Linked DNA regions of Homo sapiens: region 1 is linked to region 2. The links come from fine-mapping of genetic effects on gene expression. A gene starts in region 2. The other region holds a variant in brackets. All regions are shown on one strand. Distances are from middle to middle. Region 1 overlaps RAB8B (RAB8B, member RAS oncogene family). Region 2 holds the start of RAB8B (RAB8B, member RAS oncogene family).

Region 1 (12,400 bases), 27 kb before region 2:
TGAGAGAGTGATGAGTGAATGTGAAGGCCTAGGACATTACTGTACACTACTGTAGACTCTATAAACACTATACACCTAAGCTACACCAAAATTATATTTAAAAAATAAGGTAACTGTAGTACAACATTACAATAGTTATGATGTCACTAGGCAACAGAAATGTTTTAGCTCCATTATAATCTTATGTGGGCCGGGCATGGTGGCTCACACCTGTAATCCCAGCACTTTGGGAGGCCAAAGCGGGAGGATCACTTGAGGTCAGGAGTTCGAGACCAGCCTGACCAACATGGTGAAACCCCATCTCTACTAAAAATACAAAAAAAATTAGTCGGGTGTCGTGGCATATGCCTGTAGTCCCAGTTACTCGGGAGGCTGAGGCAGGAGAATTGCTTGCGCCCAGGAAGCGGAGGTTGCAGTGAGCCAAGATTGTGCCACTGCACTCCAGCCTGAGCAACAGAGTGAGACTCCGTCTCAAATAATAATAAAAATCATCATTATCATCATCATCATCAACTTATGGGACAACCATCCTATATATGATCCATCATTCACTATAATGTTGTTATGTGGTGCATGACTGTATTTACAACAGAAGGAATTTAATAGAGGGAACTGGCTATATAAGGCATTAAATTGCTGCAAACCATATTGGGGATGGTAAAAGGTTTAACAACAGCAGGGAGCCACTACCACCCCTAAGCCGGAGAGACAAAAGGAAGAGATGACAACAGCAGGGAGCCACTACCACCCCTTAGCTGGACAGACAAAAGGAGGAGATGGTGTTATAGGAACTGAAGACATAGAGTCACTGGACAAGAACCATGGTGGTCCTGTCCAGTGAGAACTAAAGCCAGAGAGAAACAGTCTCTGCTAGAGAAGCCACCCAAGGCAAGAAGGGAAAAAGAGAAATATCTTGGTTTCTCCCTTTCTCCTCTTGCATTATTTCCTGCCAGTTTCTCTAATCAGCTGAACCCAGTCTGAAGCTAGCTGACCCAGAAGCCTGGGTGGAGAAACAGGGAAGAATGAATATTAGAGAAAACTGACCAAGGGCTACAGTTAATCCTCAGCTGCAATAATCAAATATGTGACTGTTACAAGCAACTGAGATTTTGGGGTTGTATAACTGCAAAAGCTGACTGATACATGCCTCCACAAACATCAAGTAGGTAAATAAATAAGCAGACAGAAGTGAAATAAATGGAGAATCAAAAGTGAAATCATAGCAATAATTACTTTTAATAATTGCTTTGAAGACATTTCCACTATTAATTCGTGAGCCCAGGGTGGAAGGCAAGCACATGTACAGACCCCCAACCATGCTCTGGTCCTGAAGGAGAAGTCCATTCAGGAACCTGTCTAGCTATGTGGTGGGATCCCCAGCTAGCGGTGGAGATGAGCCCTGGCCAGGACTGTCTTATAGCTTCACAATTAACTGGGCAGTTCGGGACAGGATGACCTGGTGAACTGGGAGTGTCATATGCTGGCAAGTGAGGAGCCAGGACTTCCAAAAAGGAAGTTTGTCACTGAGTCAGCGATGTTGCCAAGCCCTAAGCCAGAGCAGTACTAATATAGCTCAAAGGTAACCACTGACATGGCCATTCAAGCTTTTTGCTTATAATACTTCTAGCACAGTACTAGCTTCCATCATAATACATACAGTATAGCTTCATTAGTTATTTATAATCCCTCCCTTCTCCCAAAGTAGACTGTATGCACCACAGGATACTGGATACCTTTTTAGTTTATGTAACTCTACAATTACCCATCTTAAAATATATGGCCCCATCCAACATATCCAACATTATTTTTCACAATTCCTCAGCATAAAACCTCAGAAATGCCTCTTTCATGCTCTGTGGTATTCCCTGCCTCTAAGCATTTTTCAAGATCTCCCCATTGTCTGGAACATTCTCCATCCTTTCCATCTGAATCCTGAAAGTGCCTCAAGATTCAGAAACTCTACCTCCTCTGTCCTCCAGTTATTCCAGCCAACTCTGCTCACTCTCTACCCTAAACTCCTACAGAATTTAGAATGCATATCATTATGCATGTGGCAATTAATTATTTTTGTTGTTTCATTTAAGTTTTACCTTCCCAATTACACTTGAGCAGAGGATCTAGCACTGTATACGGCTGATTAAATAAGTGCCTGATAAATGTTTAAAGGAATAAATGAAAGATAAACCCTTTTTAAAAAAAAGCAGGAGCCTCATCTTTTACTTACAGTACTTCATTTGGAACCTCCCTCCTGTTTGCCAAGCAAGTAACAGGCACTCAATAAACATTTCTTGACACTGATCAATTACTTTGGAATACAATCAGGTTTACATATGTCTAGATTGATCCTACTGGAATGAATCTTAATGGCTGGCAAATTAAGTTACATATTTGGGTAACTTTAAGTGATAAAACAAAAAAGTGAAACACAAAAAACACTAAAATATGAAACCACTGAAAGTTTCAAAAAATACCACTTGACTCTTACTCCTCCTTACTCTTATATGTGCAGTGAACACTGTACTCTCTTCTATTCTCATGTTCTTGTCCTACTGTCTTTCCCTCCATTTAAAAAAAAAAAGTTGGTCTGTACACAGTAAATTGACTTCATGACCCAATAAAGGGTTGCAATCCATATTAAAAACACCGGCCTAAAGAACATTCTAGAATAATTTTCTTAAATTATTAAGTACAAATGACAAAACAGTACTAAGCATACATAAAGTAGATGTCTTCATTTTAGAATGAAGAAAAGGCAACAATGCAGTCTCTTCTAGAGAAATGAAATAGAACGAAAGGTTCTGCTACCATTGTCTCAATTCTAACCACGTTAACTTAGACAGGTTTAGGGGTTCGGGTGATTTTTAAAAATTCAACACACTGAAATAAATAGCAATTTTGTAATTATATTAAAAGGCCTGATATAAGGGCTAACACTGAAGTGGGGGGAAATAATTGGATATTTCATATTGGTTAGAAAGTCTTACTTTCTTCAGAAACCATAGTTTTCTTAACACTTGGACAACAATCACAAAACCAAATGTTGTGGATGTCTCTACGTTGTGTGGGAACTTCTACCATTGTTCCAACAACTAGAATGGCTTCCAGAGTCCATGTAGAAAGAGTAGAAAGCAGAAAACCAAAAAAGAAGAGAGATAATAGACTCATTACCCAAGAGACCCTCTCAAAAACACAGCCAGTTAAGCCAGCAGTGGAAGCCTTCCATCAATATAGGCTCAATAGTAAAAGACCCAGTTTTCTTTCATGGAAAAAAAGGGATCTGTCTGATCAAATACAGCCTCCATAGAATTGGTTTTTCTAAAAAATGAGACAAGTCTTCAGTGGCAAACTGCCCCACAGCAGTGGCTTTCTGCCTTTTTTAACCCACTGGTAAGAAATAATTTTTATATAACAACACATTCCACATATATACATACTTACATAACTGAAACAAAAGTTTTATGAAATAGCACTTGACCCTTACTCCTTGTTACTCTTACATGTGCAGTGGACTCTGTGTTCTCTTATCTGTTGTCATGTTCTTGTCTGTTCTCTTTCCCTCCATTTAAAAAAAAAAAAAAAAGTTGGTCTGGACACAGTAAATTGACTTCATGACCCAGTAATGGGTTGCAACCCATATTGAAAACATTGGCTTAAAGAACATCCTGGAAGTCAAGTAAAGGTCACATTCTCTCTCTCGATCTCTTTCTCTCTTTCTTTCTTTTTTTTTTTTTTTGATGGGAGTCTCGCTCCTTTGCCAGGCTGGAGTGCAGTGGCGTGATCTCAGCTCACTACAATCTCTGCCTCCCAAGTTCAAGCAATTCCCCTGCCTCAGCCTCCTGAGTAACTGGGACTACAGGCGCGTGCCACCACCCCGGCTAAATTTTTGTATTTTAGTGGAGACGGGGTTTCACCGTGTTGGCCAGGATGGCCTCGACCTTCTGACCTCGTGATCTACCCACCTCAGTCTCCCGGCACCTGGTGATCTCTTTCCTTCTAAAAAAAAAAAAAAAAAAAAAAAAAAAAATCCACTGCTGGAAGAAAAGATCATTTTAGCTTCACTTTTTAGTGAGAGAGAGAAAAATGACAACTTCAGGGTCTTGTATATAGCTGCCCCTAAAATATTTGTTAAACTTAAGAGGCTAAAGTGTTTTTTTTTCTTCCTATTTTGTGAGTAAAGTAACATATTAACAAGCAGGGAGGCTAAGATTTAAAGGAAAAAAGGAGAATTCCAATAATGGAAATACTGCTTGAGCAACATGCCCAATATTTTGAATATGACATTGCCGGGAATTCCTGTATCACCTGAGATACTTTGATTTATCAGCCTAAGGCCAAGAAACAAAAGAGAGAAACGCCCATCACAAAAGGCCAGAAGAGTTCAGTAGTGTGGTAACTGACATCATTTCAAATGAATGAAGTGGGACTATGCCCTTTAAATGAGGAAATAATTGCCTGCAAAATAAATGACTCCAGCTTAAAACAATCCAGAATGTCTAAAGCACAAACTCTTAGAACAAAATGCAGCCAAACAAAATGAGCTTCAGATTAGATAACCCCGTATAGTGGAGTCCAACGATATTCTTCAAGATACTCTCCTGAGATCCCTGCTCAGCAGATAATGATGCTGACAGCTATAATGGGATAGGCTATCATTAATAAAAATAGCTAGCACTTCTTAAGGACCCACTTAAGGCCAGGCACTGTGATAGGTACTGAATATTCCTTATCACTATTCTCATAACAAGTCTGCAAGGGGGCTTTAATCCCCATTTAACGTAAGAGGAAACAGAGGTCCAGATAAGTAACTTGCTTATACTTGTAGAAAGTGATAAAACTGGGATAATGAACTCAACTGTTATATTTTAAACCTTCACCTCCCATTGGTGCATTTCTTTTGCCAACATAAGGGTAGAAGCATAAAAAAAAAAGAACAGATAACCACATGTACAACATACATGGAGCAATAGGAAGGAAGTGAGGAA[G/A]GGGAAAAAAGGCAAAAAGGAACTGGTCCTTTTAAATAAGAAAGACATTATTTCAGAAAATGGCAGCTTCGCTTAGTTTGGAACCTAAGCTTTAGCTCTATAGTTCTAAGTGTCTATTTTAACAGCAGTTATTACTATGTGAGCTCTGTACTCTCAATCTAGGGAAAAGAATCTTGCCACTAGAAGAATAATTTTAAAGTGAGAGTCTGCTTTTGATACAAATATTTGATATAGATACTAAGTGGAATAAACATAGCGATCTACCCTTCTCTCTCCCGAAAAACTGTCTTTATCACGTTTTACTTTAAATTGTTTAGATTTTCCTCAAATTAAAAAGACAAGCTAAAGGTAATAAAATATTATTAAAGGCAATGCTTTAATTATACAGCATGGAAACCACTCATTTGCACAATGAGCATTTTATAGCTGAATGAAACTCTTCTCAAGCTTGGGGAAAACACTCAGAGGTATTCAAAATAATTAGTCCTTTGATCCTTCATTTGGTTTCAAATGGCCATAAGTGACTCTCCAAACTTGGTCAAGGATCTGGAGTTATTATACACAGTACCACCCAACAATCGTCTTGGTTAAGGCTTTCTCACTGACCCAAAAACATGGCACATGGTGAAAAACATTTTCCTTAAATGTCTAAATTGCTGCTGGAATAAATACTAGAAATGATTAGAAAGTTCCAATGGAAAAACCCCATATTCCATTCAATATTTTTAAATGTAAAGGACGTTTATTTTTGCATCTTTTACACAAAAAGAAAGTAATTATATAGAACAATCCTAACTCCATTACGCTTATTCCTCAAACCATTAGGCCCTCGTATGTACCATCTTTTCATTAGTCTCTTCGAAGTACATTTGAATTCCTTTTATCTGACTAATCATACATTAATCATATATGATTTATCTAATGAGATATCTGATTATTCTTTCTAAAGATGAAGGAAACTACCATGAGCTCAGAGGATATAAGGAAATGAAATGAAAGAAAATTAGATTCAGTGGAACTAAGAGAAACATAGATGTAATCAACCCATGTGCATCTAGTCAGAGGCCAACTTCTCTCTAGCAAAAGTCCCCCAGTGTGTTAGCAACAGAGACTACTGCACTGATACCACTTTATGACTAAAAAAGGAGGAATACTTTACAAGTCAAAACTTTTTTTTTTTTTTTTTTGAGACAGAGTCTCACTCTGTCACCCAGGCTGGAGTGCAGCGGCATGATCTCAGCTCACTGCAACCTCTGCCTCCCAGGTTCAAGCGATTCTCCTGTCTCAGCCTCCCAAAGAGCTGGGACTACAGGTGCACACCACCATGCCCGACTAATTTTTGTATTTTTAGTAGAGACAGGGTTTCATCATATTGGCCAGGCTGGTCTCGAACTCCTGCCTTGTGATCTGCCCGCCTTGGCCTCCCAAAGTGCTGGGATTACAGGCGTGAGCCACCGAGACAAGCCACAAGTCAGAACTTTTAAATCAGTGGTACTGAACATTTAAAAGTTGGATTGAGGCCAGGCACAGTGGCTCACGCCTGTAATCCCAGCACTTTGGCAGGCCAAGGCAGGTGGACTGCTCGAGCTCACGAGTTCAAGACCAACCTGGACAACATGGTGAAACCCCAGTTCTACTAAAATACAAAAAATTAGCCGGGTGTTATGGTGTGCGCCTGTAGTCCCAGATACTTGGGAGGTTGAGGCAGGAGAATTGCATGAAACCAGGAGGCGGAGGTTGCAGTGAGCCAAGATTGTGCCGCTGCACTCCAGTGGGGGAGACAGAGCAAGACTCTGTCTCCAAAAAAAAAAATAATAATTAATTAATTAATTAATTAATTAATTAAAGTAAAAGTTGGATTGAAACATTTATATGGATGTTAAAAGAGAGGAGAAATCACAGTAGATAATATATATGAAAAATTATAGAGAAGAAAAACACATCATATGGTGCTAAGATGCTAATTATGGACTCTTGAATAGGGTAATTTTCTTTAATTTTTCTTTTTTTTGAGACGGTCTCATTCTGCTGCCCAGACTGGAGTGCAGTGACACAAACAAGGCTCACTGCAGCCTCAACCTCCTGGGTTCAAGTGATCCTCCCACCTCAGCCGCCAGAGTAGCTGGGACCACAGGTGCATGTCACCACACCTGGCTAATTTTTAAAATTTTTTATGGAGATGGGGTCTCGCCATGTTGCCCAGGCTGGTCTCAAACACCTGGGGTCAAACAATCATCCTGCCTCAGCCTCCCAAAGTGCTGGAATTATAGGCATGAGCAGCTATGCCTGGTCTATAGGGTAAAATTTTAAGGGCAAATATAATATAGTTGCTCTTTCTTCTGAATCTTCTGCCAATTCCCACTTCAACTTTCAGTAAAAAGTAAAGGGTTGTGAAAATAAGACTGAGTTGACAATTCTAAAACTGACTAAAATAAAAATGAAAATTATGAGGACCTCAGGCATTTTTCAAAGTAAACTAGAAAGAACTTTCCTTTTGATAGTCCATTTACAAGTAGCGAAGTCTATCATAGGGATTCTCAGTTCCTTCGAAGACTAAAAAGAAATACAGTATGACAAAGATACAGCGTTAACTGGTTAAATTTTTATATAAGTATAAAAATTACTTCCTACTCTTTACAAACTTGTTATTGACCAGAAGGCAGTTTTTCATTTAATATCTTTGAAAAATCAGCAGTTAAGTAAAAAATATCAAGACAATTTTTGGAACACTTTAATCAGAAGTATGGAAGTATACAAATGAATTTTAAAATAAAATCAATGCATCAATGAATAAGATCTAATATGAAAGTACTCACATTTCACGATGAGACTATGATCAGATGCAGGAAAGGCAAAAGTCTAAATCCCAGTAGAGAAAGGATGGGTATGAGGGACAAAGGGCCCTTGGACTGAATTATCAAGAGTGATGTCTTCAGCTTCCAGATTCCCAGAGCCCCTGTTGGTAGTTATTGACAAATATGGTATTTGGTCACAAATAGCAACAGCAGGTATCTCTTGTGTCTGGGATAGGAAAGGAGATCAGAAACCTGTGAAGATTGCAAACTCCTGACTCCATAAGAATGAGGTGGAAGGTCTGAGGACAGAGAGCTGTAGATGCCCTACTCAATTTTAAAGACCTTAGTAAACAAGAAAAAATAAAATTAAATACTATATGTGTATTCCATGGGAAATTATTTTTATTGTTTCTTTTGGTGGGGAGAACACCACTATATGCAGTTTTAGGAGGAAAAGATAAGAAACATGAATTCTCAGAAGCAGGTTTCAACCCCCACAGCTCAAGGGTTACATTAAAAAAGAGAAATGAACTGCTGCTGAAATTAGAAGCAAGAGAACCCACTCTGGTCAAATCCACTGTCAGATGGAAAAGCTTTGTGAAGTGTTAGAAACGGTTGGGCATGGTGGCTCACGCCTGTAATCCTAGCACTTTGAGAAGCCGTGGTGGATGGCTTCTCGGCCTTTTGGCTAAGATCAAGTGAGAAGCCGTGGTGGGCAGATCACCTGAGGACAAGAGTTCAAGACCAGCCTGGCCAACATGGTGAAACCCCGTCTCTACTGAAAATACAAAAATTAGCCAGGCACGGTGGCACCTGCCTGTAATCCCAGCTACCCGGGAGGCTGAGGCAGGAGAATCGCTGCAACCTGGGAGGCGGAGGCTACAGTGAGCCGAGATCATGGCCCTGCACTCCAGCATGGGTAGCAGAGTGAGACTCCGTCTCAAAAAAAAAAAAAAAAAAAAAAAGAAAGAAACTGAGCGTACCCATTTCCAAGGAATTCAACACTGTTGAATTCTTTTTCAAACTTAAACTCCTAGATAACTACATTAGATCCTTTACCTCCCACACTGTAATACCTTGAAAGGAATAGCCAATCAGAATTTTTAAACACTGGAAATTTCTACATTTTACACGTTGGTATAGCAAACGAAACCACTTTTTTTTTTCCCCTGAGACAGAGTCTCGCTCTGTCACCCAGGCTGGAGTGCAGTGGCACAATCTTGGCTCACCACAACCTCCACCTCCCAGGTTCAAGCAATTCTCCTGCCTCAGCCTCCCGAGTAGCTGGGATTACAGACACATGCCACAACGCCCAGCTAATTTTTGTATTTTTATTAGAGTAGGGGTTTCACCATGTTGCCCAGGCTGGTCTCGAACTCCTGACCTCGTGATCTGCCCGCCTCTGCCTCCCAAAGTGCTGGGATTACAGGCGTGAGCCACCGCGCCTGGCCTGGAAACCACTTTTGTTTTGTTCTTGAGAGCAGATATAAGCGATGGAAATAAATGGAAAATGTAGAAAATTATTTGGAAGACAGAATTTACTCATTTTAAGTTTCAACACTCATATAAACAAAAGCAGTTGGAAAGAACTCATGTAGGAATTCCCCATAACCAGAAGGAAGATTGTTTTGTTTTGGGTTTTTTTTTAAGTGTCCATATTACAACTTAAATTTACAACTTAAGCTTTTATCATTATTTTAAAAATGAAAGTGGTATCATCTATAGTCATAAATGCACAGCCTACTGAATTTAAAAGAGGAGCACATTCCAGTTTTAGGCATAAGTACAGTAACTAAATAGACTTGAACAAGAAATTCTTTATCCAGTACAGATTTTCTGAGCATTTGGCACTATACAGAAAACCATGATTTACTAAGCACCAATCAACTGACCTAAGTTACATTATAACAGCACCCCTAGCCTATCCTCTGCTTTGCCCCACGTCCCCCTCCAAACATATCCACCTGAAATAGTACCTAGAAGACATTTGTCCTTATCAGATTTTATTTGAAGGAAGAAGTCAGAAAGGAATTATCTAGTAATAACTTAGTTACAATTTCAGGTACCAGCAGAGAAGCCAAAAAATGAAAATTAATCTGTGTACAAGCTGAAATTGTCCCTAGTTCTGAAAAGAGAATAGTCAGAACCTAGAGAGTTCCTTTTTGATTCCAAAGAGGGAAGGAAGGGAGGAAAGAAGGGAGGAAGAGAGGGAGGGAGGGAAGACTTAGACACTAAAACATGCTTTAGGCCTCTGCCAAAGCCTTATAAAAAACTAAGACAAACCTCATAGTTAACTACTGACAGTGGCATGTGCTTTTAATTCTATTCTGAAAATGTGCATGCAAGCAAGGCAAAATTATATCATGGTTCTCATTTACATTTATCATTGCCTCACTATGGGAATATATAATCACATACGGACATCTGTGGATGATTATATACAAAGACGGGCCTTTCAAGATCAAGTTTAAGAGTTCTAGTGTCTTTCTATTCATACACCAATCATGAAGCAATTCACTAGAGCTGTTTTAGGGAATACGGAAATATTTGGGGAAGTCCAGAGGCTGTCTCCTCATCACGTACAAAAATTTTGTAATAATTTCCTTCACCTCCCCCTCTTCCCACAGTAAAGCTCAGCAGTGACATTTCCTTTCCCCTATCTAGTTATATGAATCACTTTTTACTTTACTACATTTTTAGGGATTCTGTGTTTTTACCTTGAATCAAAAGTGATGCCAAATTATCACTAATACATCTTGACTCTTCTGATCCCCAATCAGAATTTCCCCTCCCCTAATTGAAAGTGACATTTTCTAGTACAAAAATTTTCACGCAAAATGAGGTTAGACTAGAATAAATATGAGTCAGATGAACATGAACTGAAACAGAAAAATGTGCTGGTGCAATCCCTCCCTTAACAACTTTATCTCACAACCCCGGATGTTTAAAAATGATAAACATGGTGACCTATCCAAGAACAACCTGGATATCAAGTTTTCGTTGTTTGTTTTTTGCTGCGAACTAGTTCAGCATGCTCTGCTTGTTATACATCAAGGATGCCTCTACATCAATTCAGGAGGAAAGACTACAACGCACTGTGTAGGAAGATGGGGCTTTTAGGCCAGGCACTGTGGCTCATGACTGTAATCCCAGCGCTTTGGGATGCTGAGGCAGGAGGACTGCTTGAGCCCAGGAGTTCAAGACCAGCCCAGGCAACATAGAGAGACTCCCTCTCTTAAAAAATTAAATAAAATGAGCTGGGCATGGTGGGACACACCTGTAGTCCCAGCTACTTGGGAAGCTGAGGTGGGAGAATCACCTGAGCCTGGGAAGTTGAGGCTGCAGTGAGCCATGATTGCGCCACTGCACTCCAGCCTAAATGACAGAGTGAAATCCTGTCTCTAAAAAAAAGAAAAAAACACAGGGCTCTTCATGTTGTTGAATGATCAACTAGGGGCAACTCCCCTTCAGCCATGACAGTTATGAGATGTCTATCAATATCTATCATGACCAGTCACTAGTTGCAATTGACTAGTGTCAGTCAATATATGACAATACTAAGAAAAATGCGGTGCTTGGCAAAAAAAATCCACCAAAACTATGACTGGATTTAACTGGAAGTTAATTTTGAACTCTACCACACTACCTGTACTTTTAAGAAGATACATTTAAAGAAAGTAAATACTAAACACAGTATCAGGAAGCTTTATAAAGGAAATATCAAACTATGGCTCTCTCTAAAGTCTTGCGTAAACATTCTTTCCTATTCTAATGGCCATCAAAGTTAAGGATATAATAGGGTTAAACCAGAATCTCAATGAGAGAGATGGTGAACACATATAGTCTGGGGTAGAACACAGTTATAATATCACAGTACGTGAGACAATAATCTCCCAACCTCCCAACTCAGAAAGGGACAAGAATTCACTCAATCTGGCTGTAGTTTCAGGAACATCTGTGAAGCATTTCCCAGTATTCTCAGTAATTTCTATACTTCCGATCTACAAAGGATATTCTACTATTTGTTCTCTTGTCAATAAAGAAAAGTTAGGCCAAAAGAGATTTTAACACAAAACACTTAAGCTAATAAAAGCAGAGCTGGTCTTTCACTTTTATTTGGGTTTTTGCAGATAAGACGCACATCTCAAACCAACCATAGGATCCTTCCCCAAATTCTTTCCCTGCTGTTTATCTTTTGATATTGCAAGAGCTCTGATGGGTCCCTTGTGTAGTGGTATCTTTTGGCAAAAGTGGTTTCCTCAGGTTGAGTTGAGCTCTGGCTCTTCAAAGTTAATTAGAACCACACCACACAGTATCTCGAGTATGCTGATAGAAAATGCCTGTGGTGTGATGTTAACGAGAGACAATTAAATTTCTCTTTGTTCTCTTCAGAAGACAATTACATTTCTCATCTTTTATTTGCATACCAGCCACTCAATAAAAACCAGCCTACAGCCTAGTAAAAAAAAGGCCAAGAATGGGCCTTGCCCACAGCTGCAGCTACCACCCACTACTTGCCCACCCCTTTCTCAATAGAAAAGACAGCGGGAGGCCACGGCACATACTTCCTACTCCTTTCAGGGTCTTCCATGTCAGAAACCCTGCCACGTTCCCCACATCCAA
Region 2 (12,400 bases):
GTGAGTTTGCAACCCCTAACCTAGGTAGTAAGAATCTACAATCTTACCTTGAATTTCCCTTTTTACATTTCCGTGGCTACTTGCATTTCTGAAGCTTAGTGATATCATACTCCACATTACTCGCCACCTAAAATCTACTTCCCCATCCTCACCCCCAACCCTCTTCTCATGCTATGAAAACTCTATTCCTGCAAAATATTCTCAAGTAACAGTTCTAACACCCACAGGAGAGCTGATGTCCAGAGCTGGGTGAAGACAGGCAGACCTAGACTCGAGCTGGCCTGAGGCCAGCAGCTCCCTGCTCATCCACTTCAGGATCTATGGTTCTTTTCAGATTCAGTTATTGGATTCAATTCAAAAATATACTGCTAAATTTTTCTTTGTCCTCAAAGACTAGACTTATTTACCTCTAAAACAATATCTAAACCTATTTCCCTCCAGCTTTTCTCAGTGGATCCAAACAATCTCGCTGCTGTTGCCAAGAGAACCTCCTCCCTGACTTGCTGCCTGCAGAACAGCTGGTGAAGCTCTTCATTAAAGTACACATTCTTCAGACAGATCCATATTTGTACCCAAGACTCAGTTTCCCCATGCCCATCCTTTATATGTAGGAAGGCTTTTTTCATTCACTAGAACATTGATTGAAGAGATGAGTTTAATCCTTTATGATCAAGTATTAAATTCTACTTTTTCTGAACCAGAGTCGTTATCAATGCTATTGCTTAGATGGGAAATCTACTGGCAGCTTTGAAAGAACACAATGACATTAAAATAAGGCTTTATGTACAAAATGTTCAATATGAACTTGCATGTTCCTTGCATATTTTTGTTTGAGAAGTTGAAACCAAGGAAAACAACTATGAAAATGAAAATCAACTTGCTCTACGTATCTGGATTATGCTCAGCCAAATGTTGATGTCATCTTGGATAAAAATGTAAATATGACAAAGTTTGTTTTTCAGTCAATAAGTCTTGATAAAAGCTTTGAAATGCTACCAACCAAAAATAGTTTTTAATTTTAAGTAACGGTCAGCAAACTTTCTACAAAGAACCAGTTAGTAAATATTTTTAAGCTTTGTGGGATACATATGGTCTCTTTTGCATATTGCTTTATTTTTTAATAACCTTTAAAATATAAAAACCATTCTTAGCCTGTGAGCTACACAAAAACAGGCTGCAGGTCACACTTGGCCCATAGGCTATAGTGTGCTAACCCCTGATTTTAAGGAAAGTGAACCCAAGAAAAATATCCAGTGTTACAGAATAAAATGTCTAAAAGTACTCTGATGAGACTAAGCTACAACAATTACTAACATACCCCCATTAATATGATTTCATTAGTTACTTTACGTATGGAAGAAATTTTAATGATAGGATACACTTTGATCTCCTAATGTGAAACTATAGACACAGAAAGGGCAAAGGACAGCTATGCGCTGAGTTATTCCAGTATAAACTCCAACAGAACTCAGAGTCATTGTAGTAACATTTGCTATTCACCTGAACAGACTCGGCTAATCAAAACAGAAATGTCTTAACTTTCCTCACATAAAGGCGTATGTGCAAACTCTAATTCTTCCCTGGAAAAGGTGATGACTTGAATTAATGGGGATAATCATACTGATTAGGAATAGTAGCAACTCAGTTGTGAAAAGTGACATAGACTTGGATCTGGGGTTTCACTACAGGATCTGCTATAATCAGCTGTGTAATTTTGAGGGTGTCAATTAAACCTTCATTTTTTTTTTATTTATAAAATTGGGACAGGAATAAAGTAGATAATATCTAAGACTCTTTCTGCTGTTAAACTATGACTATACTAAATAGTGAAACCACTCAGGAAATACCTAACAGGAAGAAGGGGGCAGGGCAGCAGAGAGACGGCAAAGGGAAGAAGCTCTGATTGTCCTGTCAAGAGGACAGGGCTGGGTTATCTCTTTTTGTTAAACCAGCACCTTTTTCTGTCCAGAGCCATTTCAAGACGTCGGTATGCCCTCATATCAATATTAAAATGCATCCATTTCCCAGAGGAAATATAATCTATAGCTAACTGTATCATCATTCCTAGTTGTCTTTATGTTACATTTTACAGGCACTTAATTAAATGTTTTTGATGTTGTTGTTGTTGTTGTTTTTTGAGATGGAGTCTTGCTCTGTCGCCCAGGCTGGAATGCAGTGGCGCGATCTCAGCTCACTGCAAGCTCGGCCTCCCAGGTTCACGCCATTCTCCTGCCTCAGCCTCCCAAGTAGCTGGGACTACAGGTGCCCGCTGCCACCCCCGGCTAATTTTTTGTATTTTTTAGTAGAGACGGGGTTCACCGTATTAGCCGGGATGGTCTCAATCTCCTGACCTTGTGATCCGCCTGCCTTGGCCTCCCAAAGTGCTGAGATTACAGGCATGAGCCACTGCGCTTGGCCAATTAAATGTTAATTATGATTACATAAGGGTTTTTAGAGCCAATAAAAAAAATTCAATTTTCAAACATTTGGAGTGAAAGGCGAGTTGGTCCTAGGCACTTGACCAATAATTTCAAATGGATAAAACATCCTTTCCTCACAGTTAACTAAACTATTGACAGATATACTAGAAGATCTTCAAAAAGTCAGATACAAGAAAATCTACCTTCCAACACCCCTCAAAGAGCAAAAAGGAAATGAAGGGACCTGAGATATCAGAGAAGATAGCAAAACCTTATTTATTTACTTATCTATTTTTTAGAGACAGAATCTTGCTCTGTCTCCCAGGCTGGAGAGCAGTGGTGCAATCATAGCTTACTGTAATAACCTTGAACTCCTGGGCTCACGTTATCCTCCTGCCTCAGCCTCCCAAGTAGCTAGTACTAAAGGTGTGCACCACTCCACCTGGCTAATTTTTTAATTTACTTTTTGTAGAGATGGGGTCTTGCTATGTTGCCCAGACTGGTGTCAAACTCCTGGCCTCAAGTGATCTTCCTGCCTCAGCCTCCCAAGTAGCTAGGAATACAGGCATACACCGTTTGGTGAATTTTTGTATTTTTGTAGAGACAGAGTCTCGCTATGTTTCCCAGGCTGGTCTTGAACTCCTGGCTTCAAGTGATCCTCCCACCTCAGTCTCCCAAAGTGCTGGGGTTACAAGCTTGAGCCACCACACCCAGCCAATAGCAAGACCTTAGAGAAGTGAGAAGAAGAAAGTATCTCTGAGACAACTGTATCTGGAATCAAAATGACTGTCTCCTTCCCTTCGTGATGACAGAACCCCTATCAAAACAGTGTCGAAAGATGGCAGATTACCATTTTTAAAACTACTAAAACTTTGACAAAGCAAAATTAAGACTTAAAATGTATCTTCATGGGAAGAAACAGACACCCATACATATCTACCAAAACACATACACACAAACCCCAGGCGTTGAGAAATACATCTTTTCCGTATGACACAGAGCTTATCAAGTGCTGTCAGCAATGCTATGGCAGACTTCATCAAAACCCAGTCAGAAAAGCACAGGAACTTACACACTTAGGTACTTCATGACTAGGGAGGAGATGGGCTGTCACCTCAGTAACTTCAGATCACCTGGGAATGAGGTGAGGGGCATGGAGGGAGTGGCTGCTAGAGATGTCAACACTCAAAATCTATACTTGTAATCAGTGAAGAGTCTGTGGAACCAGAATGGTGCTAACATTCACCTTATTTTCCCAGCTTAATTTTGACTGCAGAGCATTAGGTTTCTATATAATTCTGCAGTTTGAAGGCAGTGTGTATATAAATTCTGCAGTTTGAAGGCAGTGTGCTACCACTTCCTGTTGGAGCTCTGGGGCTAAATAAGAGGTATGGGATTTCCCCTCCTCCACGTCAACTGAAGACACAGCTCACACCTCTTTTTACCACATCCACCTCACAGAAAATATAAAGACCAAGATGTCACATGAGATTCACCTCCTTTTCATGTTCACTTCCTATTCTAATCTGTTTCAGGACACTGGTTTTCATGCCTTCATAGCTGTCACCCTCCAAAGAACCTCATTTCCATCATTTTTTGAAATCCACTGATAGACTTGAACCCTTCAAAATGAAAAGTAATTTTTAAAAGCTACTATTTTAAAAGGAACCAGATACCCTTACAGGAAACATGGGACAAAAATTAAGGGAAAAAGAGAAAACGAATAAAACTATTACAAACAAGCAAGTCGTCCAAGAAGCTTAACAAAAACAGCATCAGCGAGATTCACTTACTTTCAAGGCAGGAGATACTTCTGGGAGGCTCAAATACAGAATGGACAAAAGGACACCCACTCAACTTGTTAGAAATTATCCTTTACCATCTGTACTGCAGTATGCATTCAACAATGAAAAATTGTTATTTGAGGCTTTGAAATTAATACAAATGTCAAAAATTAACACCCTTTAGTTGCTGTACCAGCAGCTACCACCAAATCTTAGGAATATACTTGAGAGATGACATTTAAAATCTGCTTTTTCAGAAAAGAAAAAGTCCCACTCAAGACTGACTGCCAAGAACTTGCAATTCAAACTTCCCTAAGCCCAGACATCATAACACCCAGGAGATTTTAGACCATTCAATCTATATGAAAGAATCCAGAATGAGCAAACAAACCATAGCCTTTACTAATACTTAAAGAGTGTTCTATACCAAATACTCTTTTTTTAAAAAAAGATAAATTATCCTTAAAAATACACAAATATTTAAACACACGTATTACCAAAGCACTAGCTCTCTATTATTTCCCAACCCAGAAATTCATGGTGAAATATGCTGTAAGAACCATACGAAAGATGACTAAATAAGCCACTATTAGAGGCCAGAAACATCACCAACACAACCAAAAGCTGAGGTATTCTTAAGGTACTTAATTAACCTGCAACTATTTAACAGGAGAAATGATGTTAAGGTGGTCACTTCTAAAACAGCTTAAAACCAGCTTTGACTTGGTCTTCAGTTTATGATAAGTTAAGAGATCTTATTACCTGAACACAGTGTCTTCCAGTACAAAAGTAGAAAGGACAGCTCCCAGCCAGGATCAGAAAAACTCTTGATTCAATTGGAAGTAACTGAGAGGTATATCACATGTTGTGATTCACTTAACAATAATTAGAACCAAAGCAAAATATACAGGGAGGCAGGTAGAATGTAAGTTCATTTCCTTGGCTGAGAAGCTGTTAAACATTCAAACCGAAGGATTTAAAATACTGAGAAGTCTTGCTTCTCAGGAGATGGTAGTAAAGAGGTGAACCATATTTTCCTGACCACATCATTTCCAAAAGTCACCAATTCCCTTAACATCCATTAACACTCACAGAACAAATTAACGCTCTATAGACATTATTCCATCATTAGTCACATTTTGCTTTCTCCTGCACTTGATCCAAAGGAAGTGAAGAGAAAATGGTAATCAGTTACTATAGCAAGTCTTGCGCCCCACTACTTTCCATTTCCTCTCTTTTCCATCTCCTCTGTCTTCTCTGCTCAACCTCCCTTTACTATGATGTTGCTTCCTCTTTTCCTTTCTGTCTCACACCCAGATCCCTTTACTTTCTCCATCAAGTATCCTCATTCTGCCCTCTGATCCCTTGAACTCTTCTTCCACCTACAATTTTCTTCTGTCCCCTCCTACGACATCTCAGTCCAGACCTCCTGTGGCCAGCCGTCCCCTTCTTCCTCACCTCCTGACCGCTCATTCCCCTGAATTCCCTTCCAGTTGCCTGGTTCTCACCTCTCTGTCCCTTGTGTCCTCTGTCCCTTTACTTCACATCCCTCTCATTGCCCCCATCCCTCATTTCCCCCTTCACATTTCCTTCCTCTCCTGTCTTTTAATCATTGGCACGTCCACTATCCCCTTCTCTCTACATGAGATTTCCTGAGTCTTCCCCCCAACACATTTTGTCCCTCAAAGACCCCTCCCTGTCAGTCTCCGAACCCTCTCGTTCCCCCAATACCCCTAGTCCTTGTTCCTCTGTTCCCCTTCCCGTTCCTTTGCCCCCAAGTTCCCCCTTCGCCCTTAGCCTCACGTTCCCGCTCGCCTCTCTCCCTCACGCCCTCGCCCCTCTCCCTCACGCCCTCGCCCCTCTCAGTGCCCCCGCCACCTTGCAGTCCCCGGGGTCTCCTCTCCCGGGCTCCCAAGCGCCCCCCGCCCTTTCCCCGTCCCCTAGTACCCGCCCCCCAATTCTCTACCCGGTCCCGGGCCGCGGCCCCTCCCTCACCGATGGTGGAGATGAAGGTGGTGTTGAAGGCGTCCTCTGAGAAGCGGAACAGGAGGCAGGTCTTGCCTACCCCCGAGTCGCCGATCAGCAGGAGCTTGAAGAGATAATCGTACGTCTTCGCCATCTTCTCGCTCCGGCCCTCTGACCGGGGAGCCAGAGGAGGCGGTGGAGAGAGGCGGGGAGGGGGCCGCGGGCGAGGGGGCGTGCCCGCCAATCCGCCGCTGCTCGCCCCGCCCCACGCCCCGCCCCTCCTCTCGGAGAAGGCCTGCGCGCCCCGCCCCGTGCGGCCAATCGGCGAGGGCTTCGTCATCACCGCCCGCGCCCCGGGACTTCATGGGACTTGTAGTTCCTCCGGGGAGCCTCGGGCGTGCCCCGCGAGGACTGTCCAGGCGGCTCCAGCGGATAAAAGACCTGCTATGGGCGGGGTGACAGGGTGGAGGCGTTTCCACCCGAGCTGGGAAGGGAGGCCCCGTTTCGTACTCTGCTGGTCGAGCCGCGGGAACTTAACTTTGTTATTTCTTTGTGTGCAGACGCCTTCCAAATCCAGGACCTCAGAATCAGAGCCCCGTAGTTCCCGCATCTCTTCCGCCGAGACCTGGAGCAGAGATGCTTTCTTTCCTTGGCGCTGCTGTGGCGCAGCCTACGGGTTATCTGCAGAGGGCATTATCCAGCTTCTCCCCGAGGCCATGCCCAGCACCACTATAACCCCCTCCCGCAGCCCCTCAGTCACAGAGCTGAGAAAGAATGGTTACCATGCTAACTCGAACCTCACTCGTGCCCCCTTCTTCACGCCACACAGACCAGAGCCAAATACAATGAGTATTTAGAGAATCTGCTACGCTGATCGCTCCCCTCTCCTCGCAGGAGGATGGATTTTTAAATCTGGGAAGTCTTGTGCTACAGGTCTGTGCCCCATGAAACTGCAAGCATCCTGTGAGGCGGGCCACGGGAATTTAGAGAGTAAGATTTGAATTTAGTCTTGGCTCTGCTGCAAAACCGCTGTGACAAGTCACACAGGCACTGGACATTTCAGTTTTCTCATCTGTAAAATGGATATGAAACAAGATACTTCATAGGGTTCCAGTGAAACTTAAATACTAAATGTGAAAGTTCTTTGAAACCCATAAGGCACTGTTAGCAGTGATGGTAATATTCATTACTCTTCAGTAGGCTCTCACTTAATTGATGACGAATATAGGGAGGAAACAGCATTCTGTTATACTCAAGTTAATCCTTTATTATTTATTGTCTTAGGCTAATTCTCTGTTTTGTGGATGTATTGTTCAGTCCCCTTTCATTTGCTAGTGGCAGAAACCCAACCGGATTAGCTGTTGTGAAAGGGGTGTTGACTGGTTCAGGTAATGTGGAAGCAAAAGGCTAAGAAGGTGTGGGACTAGGAGTCCACCCTGCCAGGGCTCTGTGTCTCTCATCTGTTGTTCTCCCTTCGAAGTTTTAATTTCTAATATGTCAAATACCGACAGGTAAAACCCACATGAAAAAAAGCTTCTTGGAGTCTTCAATAAGTTTTAAGAGGATGAAGGGGTCTTGAAACCAAAGTATTTGAGAACCACTGGTCCAGACATTTACCTTAGCTATAAGGAAACACCTTCTGGAAGGCTAGAGGTTATTAAGGGAACCAGTGGACTCCACCATTAGTGGAATAAGAAAAGGGGGGGGGGGAAAAACCGTGGACAGTTAGTTGAACAAACCAGCAGGCTTTTCTAAGGACACATACTGTGTGCCTTGTGACTTTAGGAACAGTGCCACTGATAATCCATTCTCAGTTGCATTGTGGCAGAAGACTTAGTTGGCCCTAGAATTGGCCTTCATTTTCTATGCGGGTAAAAGATGAAATGTGTCATCATTAACTGATTGATCATACAGTAGCCAGAGGGCTGCTGCTGCTGCTGCTGCTGCTTACGGAATGTCTCATTCCTAGAGTCCACTAGATAGGAACAAAGCTCTAATGAGTTCAAAGTCACAGTGTCTGCCCCTAATGAAGAAGGATTCTGCCCTCTGGCACAGGCTGAGCCCTCTTGCCCAAGCCAGTCCTTGAGCAAGCCTCTGAACGTGGCTTCAGCCATGATCTGAACAGTGTGGATTGTTCTATATCTTCCTCCTCATTCCTGGAAAAGAAGGGGAAAAAATTCCGCAAAGACCAGTGGAATTTATTTCTTTTTAAAAATGTATATTTATGGCCAGGCGCGGTGGCTCACGCCTGTAATCCCAGCACTTTGGGAGGCCCAGGCGGGCAGATCACGAGGTCAGGAGATCGAGACCATCCTGGCTAACACGGTGAAACCCCGTCTCTACTAAAAGTACAAAAAATTAGCCGGGCATGGTGGCGGGCGCCTGTAGTCCCAGCTACTCGGGAGGCTGAGGCAGGAGAATGGCATGAACCCGGGAGGCGGAGCTTGCAGTGAGCCGAGATTGCACCACTGCACTCCAGCCAGGGTGACAGAGCAAGACTCTGTCTCAAAAGAAAAAAAAAAACCGCATATTTATTAAAATGATGTTTAGTCCCACTGTCTGTATGCAACTATTATCACTCTCTTTCTATATGAATAAAAATGTAGTGATACGGTAAAGAACTTAAGTTCAAAAGAGAAACTAGCATTAGGAATTTTAAAGTCCCTAAATTTTCTTAGGGGAATTTTGTTAATTGATGGGAATTTTAAAAAATAATAATGTTGTCTTATTTTCACTTCCCCAGTTTTTCTCTGCTACCAAGTATATATAATATTGGGACTTTCTAGCTGGTAAGTTTGTGCACCACTGTTGAACCATTCAAGCATTTTGACATATTGATACTACTTCAAAAAGAATCAGATTTTTTTCTCTTACACATTATTCATTTTCATATTTTGTGCAACAATGTTATTTAGATATCGGATTCTGGTGGTAGTAACTGAGTACTATTGAATCAAGGCATTTTGCTCAAAGGACTGGACATTAAGTATATTTGTAGCAGTACAGTTACTTCAGGTAGCAGGTTGCTGGTTGCCACTGTTCCTTCTTTCTCCGAGAGCTATCAGTGGACCCCGTTTTAAACTCCAAGTTACTATGCTCTGAGTGAACCACATCAATACTTTCTGTCAGTTTCCCAAGCCCACCCTGTAAATACTACATCACTGCAGAGCACCAGGCACATTCAATTTGATTTAGCAAATGTTTATTGAAGCCTTCTATAGGGTTAATATTGTACATGACAGCTTGACTACAGAAATCTAGATGTCCAAGGAGTCTACCTTCTGTGAATTTTGTCAGACCAGCACTCTTTCTGTTTTTGGAAAGCCACTCCTCTTTCTAATGATGGCTGTGAATCATGTCACTTCACTCCACATGCCACAGAGGTGGGCATATGACCCAGGCTGCGTCAATCCGAGTTCTTCCCTGTGAACTTTCTAAGGAAATGGGTTTTGATGCTGAAAGTAGGTCTGTCTGGTATGAGGTCTATGTGAGCTTTTGGCTGGTTTTGATCAAAGCTTTAGTTCATTTTCCTGTATGCTCTTGTTCCTGCTCTTCTCTGTGTTTACTTTGTCCTCAGGCTAGCTTTCCTCATGGTAGCAAGCAAGACTGCCATGTTGCACAATTCCAAAGGCATTATTCACTCTCCACAGTAATGTATTCATCTTGGAGGTCCACTCCCAAGATTCTACAAACATAGTCTTGAGGGTCTGTGTGTTCTCTAAGCAAATTTTCAAAATAGTTTAAGAATTTTTAAACTGGTTTAAGTTGCTCCATGACACTTGAGAGCAAGAAATCACCTTTCTTAATGGCTTTAACGAAATTAAATTTGGCTGAGACCCCTACTTATCAAAGGCTGGCAAAACCAATATCAGGTTTTTTTTGTTTGTTTTTGAGACGGAGTTTCACTCTTGTTGCCCAGGCTGGAGTGCAATGGCACAGTCTCAACTCACTGCAACCTCTGCCTCCTGGATTCAAGCATTTCCCCTGCCTCAGCCTCCCGAGTAGCTGGGATTACAGGTTCCCATCACAATGCCCAGCTAATTTTTATATTTTTAATAGAGACGGGATTTCACCATGTTGGCCAGGCTGATCTCCAACTCCTGACCTCAGGTGATCCGCCCACCTTGGCCTCCCAAAGTGCTGGGATTACAGGCATGAGCCACCGCGCCCGGCCCAAAATCAGTTATTATTGGGACTTTTCCTCTCCTTAATTGTATCTTACAAGAATCCAGGAGCTCACATGGTCCTGAAAAATTAAAGGCAAAGCAGCCTCTGGGAATCAGTGTGTACCCATCTCGGTTGACACTTCTGCCCAACTACTCTTAGGTTCTGGCCCTCTGCCATCTGTTGAGCACAGCTGTCCCGGTGGGCTACAAAGATGTCCTTTATGGTGATTATCTTCACTGACTGATGACTCAGCTGTTGAATAAGTTCTCTCTCTGTTATTGAATGGTTTGTGTGCTTCTTTGTCTGCTCCCTTAAAAGTTGAGCTCTTTGAGGAAAGAGACTGCTAATGTATTGCTGCATCCCCAGCATGCTTAGCATGATGTTTTATACATAGCAGGCACTCAAGGTGTTGAATGAACCAATGAATGAAGATCTGACTAGCATCTTAGCAGTCTAGCTAATTTTAAAACATCTGGACACCTTTAGTTTATTATTTGCTATATTAGGTGTTTGGGACCTCGCTAATATCTTTCTGTTTGTACTCTACCTTGTATTTAGATGTTATTCATTCAGTAAGTACACTATTCATTGTTGTGTTTAAGAAATCAGCATAATTATGTATTATTTTTCTGGTTTGTCAAGATCACATTGAATGATAAGCCCTTAAAAATACCAATTTTTCATGTCACCTGTGTGTCATTAAAAAATGCTATTTAGTGATACTCCAGTGTATAATTCTACAATTATCCTAATCAGAGGGACAAACTGTACCCTTTCCACTGACTGATATTTCCTGAGCAATCACTAGGTGAAAAATGTCCACTCAAACATTCATTAAGTTCACACTTTGAAACCAGCTAAGCAAGGCCACCTGGAGGATACAAAAAGATGTCTCATGTGGTCCTTGCCCTCAGTTTGCTCCCAGCTAATTGAGGGGAGAGCCCACAAATGAAAAATTCAATGGTAAATGTGAGGCTCGTACACATTGCATTTATCTTGATAGGTGAAGATAAGTTGTCCATTCTGATTGGTTGGCTTTTCATTCGGATTAGTGGGGCATCCATTCTCATTCTCATTGGTTGGGTGTTGATTTTGATGATTTGGGCATCCATTCTGATTGGCCAGGCTTCCAATCTGATTGGTCAAGTGTTCCTGCCAAACTGATTGTTACATATTATGCATATCACCACTGGATGCAAAAGTTAAATAAAAATGAGAGATGATAAGACCCCTACATTATGTACATTCTACAATAATGTAGAATCAGTGGGAGCCCCGAGCTTGTTTTCCTGCAACTAGATGGTCCCATCTAGGGGTGATGCGAGACAATGACAGAACATCAAGCATTAGATTCTTTTTTTTTTTTCTTTTTGGGACAGAGTCTCACTCTGTCACCCAGGCTGGAGTGCAGTGGCACGATCTAGGCTCCCTGGAACCTCCCCTCCCCAGGTTCAAGCGATTTTCCTGCCTCAGCCTCCTGAGTAGCTGGGATTACAGGCACACACCACCACACCCGGCTAGTTTTTGTTTTTAGTAGAGATGGGGTTTCACCGTGTTGGCCAAGCTGGTCTCAAACTCCTGACCTCAGGTGATCCTCCTGTCTTGGGCTCCCAAAGAGCTGGGATTACAGGTGTGAGCCACCGCACCAGGCCTAGGCATTAGATTCTCATAAGGAGTGGGCAACCTAGATCCCTCACACACGCAGTTCACAATGGGGTTCGTGCTCCTCTGAGAATCTAGTGCCACCTCAGTTCTGACAGGAGGTGGAGCACAGGTGGTAATGCTTGCTCACCTGCTGCTCACCTCCTGGTGTGTAGCCCAGTTCCTAACAGGCCACTGACCACAACTGGCCCACTGCCTCGGGGGTTGAGGACTCCTGCACCAAAGGGTGGTTTGGAAGGAATTCATTCTAATACCTCTTATATTATTTCTTTCTCTGGTAATAAAGTTGCTGACAATAAAATATTAGCAAAATTCATTCATTTCATTAAGCTAGGCATTGCTATTTTGTGGGATTTTGTGTAAAGTAAGACGTGCAATAAGGACTATGCATTTTGGGTAGAG

What was found.
Region 1: its variant is fine-mapped to the expression of RAB8B in whole blood (INTERVAL, PIP above 0.99).

What each region holds. Positions count from the first base shown.
Region 1 is chr15:63,210,629-63,223,028 of GRCh38, reverse strand. All of the region lies in intron 1 of RAB8B (RAB8B, member RAS oncogene family), which reads right to left. Among named protein-coding and RNA genes, the nearest start is that of RAB8B, 27 kb to the right of the region's middle. RefSeq lists an enhancer at 11,837-12,400. The variant G/A (reference allele first, on the strand shown) is at 4,983.
Region 2 is chr15:63,183,548-63,195,947 of GRCh38, reverse strand. It overlaps RAB8B (RAB8B, member RAS oncogene family), which reads right to left and starts at 6,342. Exons shown (of 8, transcript NM_016530.3): 1 at 6,200-6,342. The coding sequence starts at 6,323. LOC101928972 (a long non-coding RNA gene) reads left to right here and starts at 6,517. Exons shown (of 4, transcript XR_932355.4): 1 at 6,517-7,102; 2 at 8,913-8,958. RefSeq lists enhancers at 1,740-2,240, 3,522-3,681, 6,768-6,917 and a silencer at 6,258-6,587.